Homo sapiens: one gene and its partners. The protein of the gene in region 1 interacts with the protein of each later gene in a biochemical or structural test. Each region holds a gene or a part of one and is shown in the gene's direction. Other genes may lie near its edges.

What was found.
Region 2: of the proteins of FBXO11 (region 1) and DTL, one has a biochemical effect on the other in vitro, tested with the Homo sapiens proteins (one study listed by BioGRID).
Region 3: of the proteins of FBXO11 (region 1) and BAHD1, one has a biochemical effect on the other in vitro, tested with the Homo sapiens proteins (one study listed by BioGRID).
Region 4: the proteins of FBXO11 (region 1) and USP16 interact in a test that uses a peptide from one of them, tested with the Homo sapiens proteins (one study listed by BioGRID).

Annotation. Positions count from the first base shown.
Region 1 is NC_000002.12:47,826,499-47,829,998, reverse strand, and holds part of FBXO11 (F-box only protein 11), read left to right. Parts: intron 1-3,500. UniProt on the Homo sapiens protein: Substrate recognition component of a SCF (SKP1-CUL1-F-box protein) E3 ubiquitin-protein ligase complex which mediates the ubiquitination and subsequent proteasomal degradation of target proteins, such as DTL/CDT2, BCL6, SNAI1 and PRDM1/BLIMP1.
Region 2 is NC_000001.11:212,098,248-212,101,747, forward strand, and holds part of DTL (denticleless protein homolog), read left to right. Parts: intron 1-2,004; coding exon 2,005-2,837; intron 2,838-3,500. UniProt on the Homo sapiens protein: Substrate-specific adapter of a DCX (DDB1-CUL4-X-box) E3 ubiquitin-protein ligase complex required for cell cycle control, DNA damage response and translesion DNA synthesis.
Region 3 is NC_000015.10:40,461,453-40,464,952, forward strand, and holds part of BAHD1 (bromo adjacent homology domain-containing 1 protein), read left to right. Parts: intron 1-459; coding exon 460-842; intron 843-2,408; coding exon 2,409-2,568; intron 2,569-3,018; coding exon 3,019-3,095; intron 3,096-3,500.
Region 4 is NC_000021.9:29,041,668-29,045,167, forward strand, and holds part of USP16 (ubiquitin carboxyl-terminal hydrolase 16), read left to right. Parts: intron 1-345; coding exon 346-437; intron 438-804; coding exon 805-861; intron 862-1,755; coding exon 1,756-1,932; intron 1,933-3,500. UniProt on the Homo sapiens protein: Specifically deubiquitinates 'Lys-120' of histone H2A (H2AK119Ub), a specific tag for epigenetic transcriptional repression, thereby acting as a coactivator.

The DNA of each region.
Region 1 (3,500 bases):
TTTTCTGCTGCTATTTTGCTTCCAGTGTGGGTGTTGCCTTTAATTTTTACATTTTTTTAATGAAATATTTCTAACGTACACTGAAGTAGAGAGAATAGTGTAATGACTCTCCAGGTACCTATTGTCTGCCTTCAACAACTATCATTTCATGGCCAATTTTGTTTAATGTATACCTCATACGTTTTACTACCTTTTTTACACTCTGGATTATTTTGAAGTAAATACCAGACTTCATCATCTCTTGTAAATATTTTACCATGTGTCTTTAAAAGATGGGTGTTTTTTTTTTCTTTCACATAACCACAGTGCTAATCCACTCCTCAATAATTAGGAATAATTCCTTAATATCATCAAATTTTCTCTTAATGTTCACAGTTCTCCAATTGTCTTTTGTTTGTTTAATACTCAGTTCAGTGCAGAGTTGTTACTTTTGTAAAATAAGATTAAAATGTCATAGCAGGCCAGGTGTGGTGGCTCATGCCTATAATCCTAGCACTTTGGGAGGCCGAGCAGGCAGATCACCTGAGGTCAGGAATTCGAGAACAGCCTGGCCAACATGGTGAAACCCTGTCTCTACTAGAAATACATAAATTAGCCGGGTGTGTTGGTGCACGCCTCAAGTCCCAGCTACTCGAGAGGCTAAGGCAAGAGAATCGCTTGAATCCAGGAGGCAGAGGTTGCAGTGAGCCGAGATCGCGCCACTGCACTCCAGCCTGGGCGACAGAGCAAGACTCTGTCTCAAAAAATAAATAAATAAATAAATAAAATGTCATAGCAGTGCCAAATAACTATAAAATTTTTTGAGGCCGGGTGCAGTGGGTCACGCCTGTAATCCTAACACTTTGGGAGGACAAGGTAGGCAGATCCCTTGAGCCCAGGAGTTCAAGACCAGCCTGGCCAACACTGCGAAACACTGCCTCGTGGTGGCGTGTGCCTGTAATCCCAGCCTCTCAGGAGGTTGAGGCATGAGAATCACTTGAAGTGGGGAGGTGGGAGGTGGAGGTTGCAGTGACCCAAGATCATGCCACTGCACTCCAGCCTGGGCGACAGAGGAGTGAGACTCTGTCAAAAAAATAAAAAAATTCATGGCATATTCATGCCATTAGATTTCATCACTTTAGTTAGAAGATAATAATAAGCTAAGCTTATTATAGCCTTTAGTTACTTGGGGACAACTACACTTCATTGAAAGTCTAAGGTACTAACATTGGTTAGTTCCCAGCACCCTCCTCTTTCTTACCCAGATTTCACAGTATTTGGTAAGTGTTTTTATAGATTAGAGTTGTGGAAGTTTATTTCTATGAAGATAGCATTTTTCTCTCTTTTTTAATCTGGAGAGTTTCTTGTGAAACTCTTGAATGCCTTTTATTTTGTCTTTTTTTTTTTTTTGAGACAAGAGTCTCACTCTGTCACCCAGGCTGGAGTGCAGTGGTGCAATCGCGGCTCACTGCAACCTCCACCTTCCAGGCTTCAAGCAATTCTTGTGTCTCAGTCTCCCGAGTAGGTGGGAGTACAGATGCCTGCCAGCACGCACAGCTAACTTTTGTGTTTTTAGTACAGACAGGGTTTTACCATGTTGGCCAGGCTGGTCTAGAACTCCTGACTTCAAGAGCTCCACCGCGCCTGGCCTACTTTGTCATATTTAATAAAGAATGTTTTACTTCAAAAAATTTATACATGTTGGAACTTTTGTGGTTTGCATTAAAAGACAAAGCAGAGGCTGGGCACAGTGGCTCACACCTGTAATCCCAGCACTTCGGGAGGTTGAGGCAGGAGGACTGCATGAACCCAGGAGTTCAAGATCAACCTGAGCAAGACAGACCCTATCTCTACTAAAGAAATATTCTAAAAATTAGCTGGGCATGGTGGCACACGCCTATAATCCTAGCTACTTGGAAGGCTGAGGCAAGAGGATTGATTGAGCCCAGAAGTTCAAGGTTGTAATGACCTGTGATAGCTCCAGCTTGGGTGACAGGGAGATTCCCGTCTTCTTAAAAAATTTTTTTCAGCCGGGCTTGGTAGCTCTGTAATCGCAGCACTTTGGGAGGCTGAGGCAGGTGGATCACTTGAGGCCAGGAGTTCGAGACCAGCCTGGCTAACTTGGCAAAACCCCGTCTCTACTAAAAATACAATAATTAGCTGGGCATGGTGGCACCCACCTGTAATCCCAGCTACTTTGGAGGCTGAGGCACGAAAATTGCTTGAACCTGGGATTTGGAGGTTGCAATGAACCAAGATCATACCACTGCGCTCCAGCCTAGGAGACAGTGAAACTCCACCTCAAAAAAAAAAAAAAATCTAATTTCTTACAGTTCTGTATTATTGATTTATTTTGTACTAGAGGTATTGCTTAACAAAATAGTTGCATTCTATTAAAATACGTCTTGAAGCAGGCCGGGTTCAGTGGCTCATGCCTATAATCCCAGCACTTCGGGAAGCCGAGGCGAGCAGATCACTTGAGGTCAGGAGTTCCAGACCATCCTGGCCAACATAGTGAAACCCCATCTCTACTAAAAATACAAAAATTAGCTGGGCGTGGTGGCTCACACCAAAAGTCCCAGCTCCTCGGGAGGCTGAGGCAGGAGAATCACTTGAACCCAGGAGGTAGAGGTTGCAGTGAGCCGAAAGTGCGCCACTGCGCTCCAGCCTGGGCGACAGACACTCTGTCTCAAAAACAAAAACAAACAAACAAAAAAATCTTGAAGCAAAATTACATTAACTGAATCCATAATAAAAATAAGTTTTCTTGCAAAATTATAAAACTATAAGTCAATCAATCTTTGTCATTTCTAAAGGTAGTAAAATCATTGTTGTGCCAATGTAGAGGCTTCTCATTTTAAGGTCGTTGAGAAAAGAAAACTTTTTGCTGCTTTATTTTCTTGAAAGTTACTCTGAAACAAAAGATACAGATTATAAACTCCATATTTGATGGAATTAGGTGACATATTTAATCCTTAACCTAATTTATTAATACAATGTGGTAAATGACTGCATGCCTGTGACCAGGGCAGCCAACCAGATTGGAGCAGGTTAAAGCTCCAATAAAGCTGTTCAGAAAGATAAATTGGTAAACCTAATGTAAATGTAAATGTATTAAGAGGTGATTTATAGGAGATGATGCAGGAGAATCGCTTGAACTTGGGAGGCAGAGGTTGCAGTGAGCCAAGATTGGGCCACTGCACTCCATCCTGGGCAACAGAGTGAGACTCTGTGTCAAAAAAATAAATAAAAAGAAGAGGTGATTTGGACAACTAGCAACAAGTTTAGGATAGAGTTGTCACTAGAAAGCTAAGCAAAGGAGAAAAAAATCCAAAAAATTGTGCAGCAAAGAAGTCATATTTTATGGCTCAACTCTGAATAGCACACTAATCTAACCAAAATTAAGGTTAAACTACACTGAAAGGATACAATGTGTGAGTATATATTGTGGGGGATAGAGAGGTAGGAGAGCTAAATTCTGCTGTCCCATAATAGAAGTCAGTGGATAATACCTAAAACTG
Region 2 (3,500 bases), on another chromosome or scaffold:
TCTGGTTGGCCAAGATGTTACAGGCAGTAGAATTAGCTGTTATTTTCTGCTTTCTTGGAGCAGGGTTGTTCTGTTGAATTGCTGTAATGGCTTGAATTGGTTGGCCTCCAGCCAGGAGGTGGCACTTTCAAGAGAGTATCAACTGCAGTAGTATAGCGGGGGATATAAGCTTGCCTTACGGTTTCCTGGATAGGTTTTCGGGCTTCTCAGGCAATGAGCAGGGCCCCACGAGTTTTTGTCTTTTGTTTACGGCTACCAGGGCGGTTAGAGAAAGACCATCTGGTGGGGGCAGGGATAGTGTGTCTGAGCTCAGACTCCTTGGGCAGGGCTTGCTGTGGCCTCTGGGCGATGGGAGTGGTGGTTAACAGGCCAATGGAGTTACGTTCTAAGGGAGATTATGGCTGCCTCTGCTGCTTCATACACATCACCAGGGAAATAGGGGAAAGCCGGCAGTGACAGACCACAGCCAGCAAGGCCAGTCTCACTCCTGCAGTGCTTCCCCAACAGCCAACAGAACCAAATTTATATCCATGCCTCCAGTGCACAGGGTGGAGATCTTGCCCTAGACTACAAAACTCCCCGCCGAGAAAGCAAGCAGGGCTGTTAGGCCTTGTCCATCTGCCTGCCACAGCTTCTGTGCTCATATCTGCACTTCCTATTTGTCCCATCCCCCTGCAGATTCTGCCCAGGAAAATTCACGCTCAGTTGAAATCATTACAAAGTTCAGCTGAAAGTCTCCTTCTCCCTATGGTCCTTCCCCAATTCCATTGGCTGCCCTCTCCAAAGACCCCTGTGAGATAGTCAGAAATGGTTTCCCTGGGGACCAGGAGTGCCTACAGGGCTCTTCCTGCTGCTGCTTCTACTTTTATATTTTGTTTGGCTCTCTAAATTCATTTCAGTTCTCCTTCTCCCATGATCTGGATCCTCAGTGAGGATGTGTGCAGAAGTGGACTTTACCCCTCTCACACTGTTTTTTGTTTGTTTGTTTGTTTGTTTGTTTGTTTTGAAACGGAGTCTCGCTGTCAGGCAGGCTGGAGTGCAGTGCATGCGATCTTGGCTCACTGCAACTTCCACCTCCCAGGTTCAAGCAACTCTTCTGCCTCAGCCTCCTGAGTAGCTGGGACTACAGGTGCACACCACCATGCCTGGCTAATTTTTGTATTTTTAGTAGAGACAGGGTTTCACCATGTTGGCCAGGCTAGTGTTGAACTCCTGACCTCAAGTGATCCACCCACCTCGGCCTCCCATAGTGCTGGGATTACAGGCATGAGCCACCACACCCAGCCACCCTCTCACACTTTGGACCTTGAGAGCTTGTTTGGAGGTTCTAGCAGGGGAGCACATTTACTCGTATACCCTTGACTGAAGACCGATTCTCCTCTTATCAGGAATGGTTGTCCTCTTCGACCAAGCACACAGCTTCGGGAGCCCTCTCACACTTTGGGCACTCAATTTTTCTGCTGTCTTGTGGATTTTGCAGCAGCAAGCCACTTCTTTCAAAGGATCTGTTAATTCTTTTGTTTTTTCTGGTATGTTCCTGTGATAGTTCTTGGAGCCAAAGTTCACTATGTGAGTCTCCACATGCTGTTCTGTCTGTCTGAGTGGCAAATTAGTCCTGCCTCCTATCTGCCACTTTCCCCTTAAATCAGTCTCATTTTTGTAAAGAAAAAAGTTGAGATGTATAGTATGTATCACATGCACAAATATAGAAAGTATGCTAAACATGGTTTACGTAAGTGCTTTAAATTTTTTCTCTTTATGTTTTTCGGTATTTTGTCGATTTTTACAAGTATATATTTTATAATGGGATAGTTGGGAGGTTGGTGACTTGGAAAAGAGAAAGGAAAATGATAAAAGGGTGTGGTTGGAATCAAGTGATGTATACCTACTTACTGGCAAATTGACCCTTAGATGATTAGGTTAGCTATGATTTTTCTTGATGAGAATTTAGGGACTTTGTATGGCTTTCACTTCTGATCTTCATGATCCTCTCCTCTTTTTCAGTAACAGTAACGAGTAGCCAGAGTACTCCTGCCAAAGCCCCCAGGGCAAAGTGCAATCCATCCAATTCTTCCCCGTCATCCGCAGCTTGTGCCCCAAGCTGTGCTGGAGACCTCCCTCTTCCTTCAAATACTCCTACGTTCTCTATTAAAACCTCTCCTGCCAAGGCCCGGTCTCCCATCAACAGAAGAGGCTCTGTCTCCTCCGTCTCTCCCAAGCCACCTTCATCTTTCAAGATGTCGATTAGAAACTGGGTGACCCGAACACCTTCCTCATCACCACCCATCACTCCACCTGCTTCGGAGACCAAGATCATGTCTCCGAGAAAAGCCCTTATTCCTGTGAGCCAGAAGTCATCCCAAGCAGAGGCTTGCTCTGAGTCTAGAAATAGAGTAAAGAGGAGGCTAGACTCAAGCTGTCTGGAGAGTGTGAAACAAAAGTGTGTGAAGAGTTGTAACTGTGTGACTGAGCTTGATGGCCAAGTTGAAAATCTTCATTTGGATCTGTGCTGCCTTGCTGGTAACCAGGAAGACCTTAGTAAGGACTCTCTAGGTCCTACCAAATCAAGCAAAATTGAAGGAGCTGGTACCAGTATCTCAGAGCCTCCGTCTCCTATCAGTCCGTATGCTTCAGAAAGCTGTGGAACGCTACCTCTTCCTTTGAGACCTTGTGGAGAAGGGTCTGAAATGGTAGGCAAAGAGAATAGTTCCCCAGAGAATAAAAACTGGTTGTTGGCCATGGCAGCCAAACGGAAGGCTGAGAATCCATCTCCACGAAGTCCGTCATCCCAGACACCCAATTCCAGGAGACAGAGCGGAAAGAAATTGCCAAGCCCGGTAAGTCAGCAGTGGTGGGAAGATACATTTCCTAACTTAAAAGGGGCCAGACACCCAGATGTCTCAAGTCAGGATGCTTTTTTTTTTTTTTAAAGAAAGAAATCTATTTATTCCTAGTGCTGCCAAATTCAGCACATAAATACAAAACAAATTTTGCATGGGCCATATTTTTAGTAAAAATGTTTTATGCTAAGAAACTATTTTTGTTTGTCTGAAATTCAAATGTAACTGAATGTGCTGTATTTTATCTGGCAACTCTACTTACTCCCATTAAAATCCCTCCTGTCAGGGTCCATACTCCTCAGCCCTGTTGCCTGATTGACCAAAGCCTTCATCATGCTCCAGGATATCAATTCAAAAATATCTCCCCTCTCCTGTTAGACAGTATGCCATCCTCTTTTTATAGATAAAGCTGTTGTTCATGGGAAAGTTGCCAACATCCATAAGTAGATTTCCAGTTTGTAATTCCATTTTGTGATTATTTAAAATACAGTGAAACTTAGATACTTACAAAACAATTTGAGTGCAAAATCTTTCTAGATTTTTATGACTTCTCCACAATCTTTTATAATCATTTTGCCACACCACAGTAATACTTTTGACACCTATATCTATTCTTTTTAACATTCAGTGTAGTGTCACTTATCTTTTTAGGACTCATTT
Region 3 (3,500 bases), on another chromosome or scaffold:
CATGGTGAAACCCTATCTCTACTAAACATACAAAAAAATTAGCTGGGTGTGGTGATGGGCACCTGTAATCCCAGCTACTCAGGAGGCTGAGGCAGGAGAAATGCTTGAACCCGAGAGGCGGAGGTTGCAGTGAGCCAAGATAGCACCACTGCACTCTAGCCTGGGCAACAGAGCGAGACTCTGTCTCAAAAAAAAAAAAAGTTCGGAGTTAAAAAGGATGTTCCAACCACCTCTCTTTCAGACTAAAAGGGGAGATGGCCAATCTCCAAGATCAGGAAACACCCCTGTCCCCTTAGAGAGTCACTCTGACAGTCCACCATAAAAAGGCCTCTGATCCCATCGGCCACCTCAGTGGCCTTTGGTTGCACAGTTAGAATTAAGACAGGAGCAGGCTCTGAAAGCAGATGGGTGATGGGGGTCACTGCTTGTCCTGTCCTGACCACTCTCTCCCTTTCCTAGAAGGCTGCAGATCCCTGGGCCAGTTGGAATTTCCTCTCCCGGAAGCTGGCCACCCAGCCTCACCCGCCCACCCACTCCTGGGGTGCCCTGTACCCAGTGTGCCACCTGCAGCAGAGCCCGTCCCCCATCTTCAGACACCCACCTCGGAGCCCCAGACAGTAGCCCGTGCGTGCCCTCAGAGCGCCAAACCTCCCAGCGGTTCTAAGTCAGGTCTGCGCACAGGCTCCAGCTGCAGGCACACTGCAAGGAGCAAGGCTGCCCGCAGGCCTAGCCACCCCAAGCAGCCACGTGTCCAGCGCCCACGCCCTCGCCGCCGCCGTCGCCGCCGCACTAATGGCTGGGTACCTGTTGGGGCTGCGTGTGAGAAGGCTGTGTATGTCTTGGTAAGTGCTAGCTCTTAGCTGATGACGAGAGGGAGGGAGGCAGTGGGGACACATGACCTGCAGTGAGGTAGGTGCTAGAAGCACCTGGTTCTAGCTACTCTGAGAGCTGACAAGGGACTCCAGTTTACTTGTACCCCAGGAACCAGTCATGCTGGCCCACCCAGCTTGCTTCCCTAGCCCCCTACTGATCCTGTACCAGACACCCCAGGGAGGTCAGGAGACACACAGTCATAGCTGGTGGCTGCCATCTCGGTGAGTGTCTTCCCCTCCCCTCCCTGCTCACTTTGTCCCTTACACCCTGGATTGTAAAGTGGAGGACTTTCAATGGAGAACTTTTCTGGATAAGTCTATATAGGGGGCGTTGGAATGGGCAGAGAAAATTAGTGACACAGAGAACATCTCGGATGATGAAAAGAGGCCAAGTGCGGTGGCTCACATCTGTAATCCCAGTACTTTAGGTGGTGGAAGTGGTAAGATCGCATGAGGCCAGGAGTTCAAGACGAGCCTGAGCAATATAGACCTCATCTCTACAAAGTAAAAACATTAGTTAGCCAGGCATGGTGGTGTGCACCAGGAGGCTGAAGTGGGAGGATTGCTTAGGTCCAGGAGTTCAAGGCTGCAGTGAGCTGATTGCACCACTGCACTCCAGTCTGGGTGACAGAGAGACCCTGGCTTTTAAAATTAATTAATTAAAAACAAAAAGAATATTAACTAAAATTTATTGAGGCTGGGCAAGGTGGCTCATGCATATAATCCCAGAGCTTTCAGAGGCTGATGCTAGAGGATTGTTTGAGCTCAGGAGTTCAAGACCAACCTGGTCGACATAGCAAGATCCTGTCTACAGAAAAAAAATTTTTTTAATTAGCCAGGCATGGTAGCATGCATCTGTAGTCCCAGCTACTTGAGAGTCTGAGGCAGGAGGATCACTTGAGTCCAGGAGGTTGAGGCTGCAGTGAACTATGGTTGCACCACTGCATTCCAGCCTGGGTGACAGAGTGAGACCCTGTCTCTAAAAATAAATAAATACATAAATACATAAAATTTATTGAGCACTTCTTAGATGCCAGAACTGAGCTAAGCATTTTGTAAGTATTATGCCCTTTAATCCTCACCACTACCCTATGTGGTATATATCCCATCTTCCTATAATTAATCCCATTTTACAGATGTGGAAGCTGAGGCTTAGCAATACTTTAAATAATTTGTCAAAGGCTGTGCCCCTTATAACAGTGGTTTAAGGGTTCAGACCGAGACTTGTTCCATTAGGAAGCATGAGCACTTACCCAGCACTGGGGGTCTTGGAGTGAGAGTCAGCTGTCGGGTATGGTGGTCAGAGCTCAGCCCCAGAAGCTTCAGGCCACTTTTCCACCCCTATTCCCTTTTCTCATCCTTTCTCCAACCATGAGAATTCCCCAGCCCCATCCAAAAAAGGATAGTGGTTTGACAAAACCAAGGTAGTGGTTTGACTATCTTGAGGAAATCGTGGAAAGGATGTCATTCCCTCTCTCTGTCCTTACTCTGAGTGTGGCTCTGCAAGCCTATTTGTGTCATTGGTTTGTTGCCTAGGATGAGCCGGAGCCAGCCATCCGAAAGAGCTACCAGGCGGTAGAGCGGCATGGGGAGACAATCCGAGTCCGGGACACCGTCCTTCTCAAATCAGGCCCACGAAAGACCTCCACACCTTATGTGGCCAAGATCTCTGCCCTCTGGGAGAACCCCGAGTCAGGTACCTCTCCCTCTGGCTGGGGACCCAAGGGGCAGCTGCCTTCAGCAGAACTGTAGTCCCCAGATTGGCCCCTGCCTGGAGTTTGACCTGGCGTGAGTCTCCCCGTGTTCCTGGCACAGAGTCTGCCTTCCACTCGGCTGGGGTCTCTCTGCTGCCGAGGGCTGTGGGTGACCTTGTGGCTTGGGTTGGATCAGCTCATTAACCTTTCCAGCCAGCAGAGCCTGGGCACCTGTCCCCCCACCTCACCTGTCAGTGCCTTCTCCCCCTTCTCCCTCCATGCCTAACAGCATTCCAGGCCTCTGAATGCTTGGCCTGGGGCAGGGGACATGGGTTGCCGGAGCCTGCAGGATTGAGGTTGGATGAACCTCCAGGGCAGCCAGCCAGCCTCTCTGCCTGTCTAAGTAACTCAGGTTGCCAGTTCAAGCCATAACCACTGTGTTGTCCTTCCAGGAGAGCTGATGATGAGCCTCCTGTGGTATTACAGACCTGAGCACTTACAGGGAGGCCGCAGTCCCAGCATGCACGAGGTGAGCTGCCTGGCAGATGGGTCAGGGAGGGCAGGAGAGACAGAGGGAAAGGTTATGGCACTAAGACGTGGTAGGGGGAGGGCAGCCATGGGCTGTAGTCAAATCCCTGCGCTTGTCACTTTGGACTCCAGAGAACCTGGGAAAGGGCCCAGGATTTATTCTCTTTTCCCAACACTGCCCCAATTCATGTTTCAAAGGGAATAATAACCTTTGTCTTAAAAAGAGGAACAGAAAGGGAACCCTTGAGGTAGCAGGTGCCAATGGGAGCAAGTGGATGTGTTCCCCTGGAAACAGGAAAGGTGAGGTGGAGCTGCATACCTGGTCACTTTTGGTATTTTCTGTAGTAGGGGAGGGGAGGGGAGGAAAGACTCCTCCTAACACCCCATAGGCTCTCCACCAAGCTGT
Region 4 (3,500 bases), on another chromosome or scaffold:
AGCCTACTCTGAGCTGTTCATTTTATACTAATGGAGAGAGAGAGAAAGACATAGAAGTCTCACTGACTTGCACAGTTTACTTCCCACTGACTAGATCTTGGATAAGGACTTTTTTGTCTTATTCATAAAAGGCGATTGTGTTCAATTATGTTATGCTCAGAGGTGGAATATATAATACTGACTTCTATTGCTTAAAAAAGGTGATTATGAATGGAGGAAGAAGTCTGTGGGACAGGAAATTTAAAATAAAATTTTAGAGTTAGATAGGTAAGTAGTTTTAGCTTTTCTTGTTTAATTAATTATATAACGGTAATTGGTAATTGATAGACTTTTTTTTCTCCATAGATTATGAGAAGAAAAAATCAATGCCAAGTTTTGTTGACCGCATCTTTGGTGGTGAACTAACTAGTATGATCATGTGTGATCAATGCAGAACTGTAAGTAGATGTCATGTATACTGGGTTTATTTGCTAATATTCAACAGTTTATCAATTGTTTATTTCAAAAGCAGAAATCTCTACCTTCATAGGATATCTTTTTAAACTATTCAGATGCTATTCAGATGTGCATGGTTCTTTGTGGGAAATGTCAGCACTCCTTAAATCTTGAAGACGTTAAACAGTTTGATTTATTTCCCCCAACCCAAAGTCCTCAATGTTGTGTAATTTTTCATTTCAAATTTTCTTAAGCCTTTGTTTATTTTAAAACCCATCCCCTACTCCCCATCCCACAGGGCAGGGAGGATCTTACTATGTAACATTTACAGTATTTACATTTTTACACTGTCTTTTCTGATTGGTTAAGGTCTCCTTGGTTCATGAATCTTTCCTTGATTTGTCCCTCCCAGTTTTAGATGATCAGGTAAGACTATTGAATTTATTTTATTCAAGTAGATTTTTTTTCCTGTAAGATTTTGTGGGGGGAAGCCTTGTTACTCTTTTTAAGTTTGTATATTACTAGCCCATGCAGAAATTTTTCTTAATTTGAGGTAGAATGCATTTTAGGATTTGAATAAAGAACAGGGTAACTACTTTAAAAACAAGGATGGAAAAAAAGATGATGTATTCAGAATTCTGTACAAGTAATTAGTTTGATTGGTTTCCATACAGTGAAGTATTTTCCTTATATTAAAATTAATACTTATTTTTGTTATTTAAGACTAATCACGAATCCCTTGCACACCTAAGTTCATAAATGTTAAAGAGTATTATTTTGTTTTAATTTGGTTCCTTTTAAATAGTAGTAGGAAAAAAGAAGAGATGTTATGAGTATTGGATAAATCATTCTTCAACTTCATATGAATTATGAGACCCTTGGCTTGTTAACTTGGCAATTAAAGTCTCACCAAATTTTATTTTCTGTTTTTCTGAAACTGTCATATGCATGCAAAGAAAGAAAAGAATAAAAAAGAATACACCGTGGTGACTTACATAAGTCACTTAGAAAATGTATTTGGAAATGGACGTATTTACAGTGTGACACAGCATGTATCTAATAAATTTCGTTATATTTCTATTACACTTACATGTGATGTTGCCTTTTGCTGTTTTGTTGGTTTGCTTGTTTTCTCATTATGTGAAGATTGCTTTCTAGTGTATGAGATAAACGAATTTTGTCTCATCTATTTTCAAATATTGTGGAAAAAAAAAGCTAATACATAATAGAAGTAGAAAAATATTTACATAGTGTGGATTTTTTTTCACCAAATGGTAGTTGTAAAATTTTGTTTTTGACCTATGTTATCTATATTTTAAGAGTGGTAAGAAAAGTGTAAATGATAAAAATCTGAAAAAGACAGTGGAGGATGAAGATCAAGATAGTGAGGAAGAAAAAGATAACGACAGTTACATAAAAGAGAGAAGTGATATTCCTTCTGGAACAAGTAAGCACTTACAGAAAAAAGCAAAGAAACAAGCCAAAAAGCAAGCCAAGGTGGGTAATTAGGAGGAAAATCATATGCTTGTAATTTTATATTTTGAGCTATTGAGTTTGTAGTCTGAATGACATTGGTTAGACATGTCTGTTATTTTAGATACAGCACTTTCATTTGACAATTACAGAATTTAGCTCATTTAGTATTCTCTGCAGGGAAATTGCTTTGAGTATATGTGAAGAAAACGTCGTGCTTCTTTTTTTTTAAATCCTGCATTGCTTGTAACAAGTATTTGTAGTAAGTTTAATTAACTTAATTTTCGAGTTAATATTATTGACATCCACAAATTTAAAAATATATAAAGGTAAACAATAAGTCCCCCTCCCACCACTGTTTTTTTTTTCCAACCCGAGATGGAGTCTTGCTGTGTCGCCCAGGCCAGAGTGCAGTGGCACGATCTCTGCTCACTGCAACCTCCATCTCCTAGGTTCAAGCAATTCTCGTGCCTCAGCCTCCTGAGCAGTCAGGACTACAGGTGCATGCCACCAAGCCTAGCTAATTTTTATATTTTTAGTAGAGACAGGGTTTCACCATTGTTGGCCAGGCTGGTCTCAAACTCCTGACCTCAAGTGATCCTCCCTCCTCAGCCTGCCAAAGTGCTGGGATTACAGGCATGAGCCACCGCGCCCGGCCGACCACCACTTTCCTTTTATGACAAAGATAAACATTTTTGTTTTTTCTTACGTATCCTTCTGGAGTTTCTTTTGGAAAATATGAGCAAATACAAATATGCAGTCTTGGTTTTTTTCCCCCTTTCTCACCATTCACACCATTCTGGATTGTGTTGTTTGTTTATACTTAGATTCTTGGAGTCCTTTCCATTTTAGTATATAAAACTTCTTCATTCTTTTTTTTTTTTTTTTTGAGATGGTGTCTCACTCTGTCGCCCAGGCTGGAGTGCAAATGGCGAGATCTTGGCACACTGCAACCTCTGCCTCCCAGGTTCAAGTGATTCTCCTGCCACAGCCTCCCAAGTAGCTGGGATTACAGGCATGTGCCACCGTACCTGGCTAACTTTTGTATTTTTAGTAAAGACAGGTTTCGCCATGTTGGTCAGGCTGGTCTCTAACTCCTGACCTCAGATAATCTGCCCACCTCAGCCTACCAAAGTGCTGGGATTACAGATGTGAGACACCGTGCCTGGCCCATTCTTTCTTTCTTTCTTTCTTTCTTTTTTTTAACAGTTGCATGATTCTGTGTTATGGATGTGCCATAATTCATTTAACCATTTCTCTATTGATTTAGGTTGTTTCTAGTATTTTGCTATAATGGTGAGTGCTCTAGTGAATAACCCTACACATAAGTCATCTGTAGGGTAAATTTTGAGAAGAGGGATTGCATTTGTAGTTTTGGTTGATACTAATTGTCCTTCACAAAGGTTGCTCCTGACCCTTGACAGCTGTGTGTTATCAAACTTCCAGATTTTGATTGGTATGTTAGATGGAAAATATTATCTCAGTGCAGTTTTATTTTACATTTATTTTAATATAAATTAGATTAAGCATATTTTTATGTTTCAGAGCCATTTGCATTTCATGTTCTTTGAAGTTTTTGCTTATATTCTTTT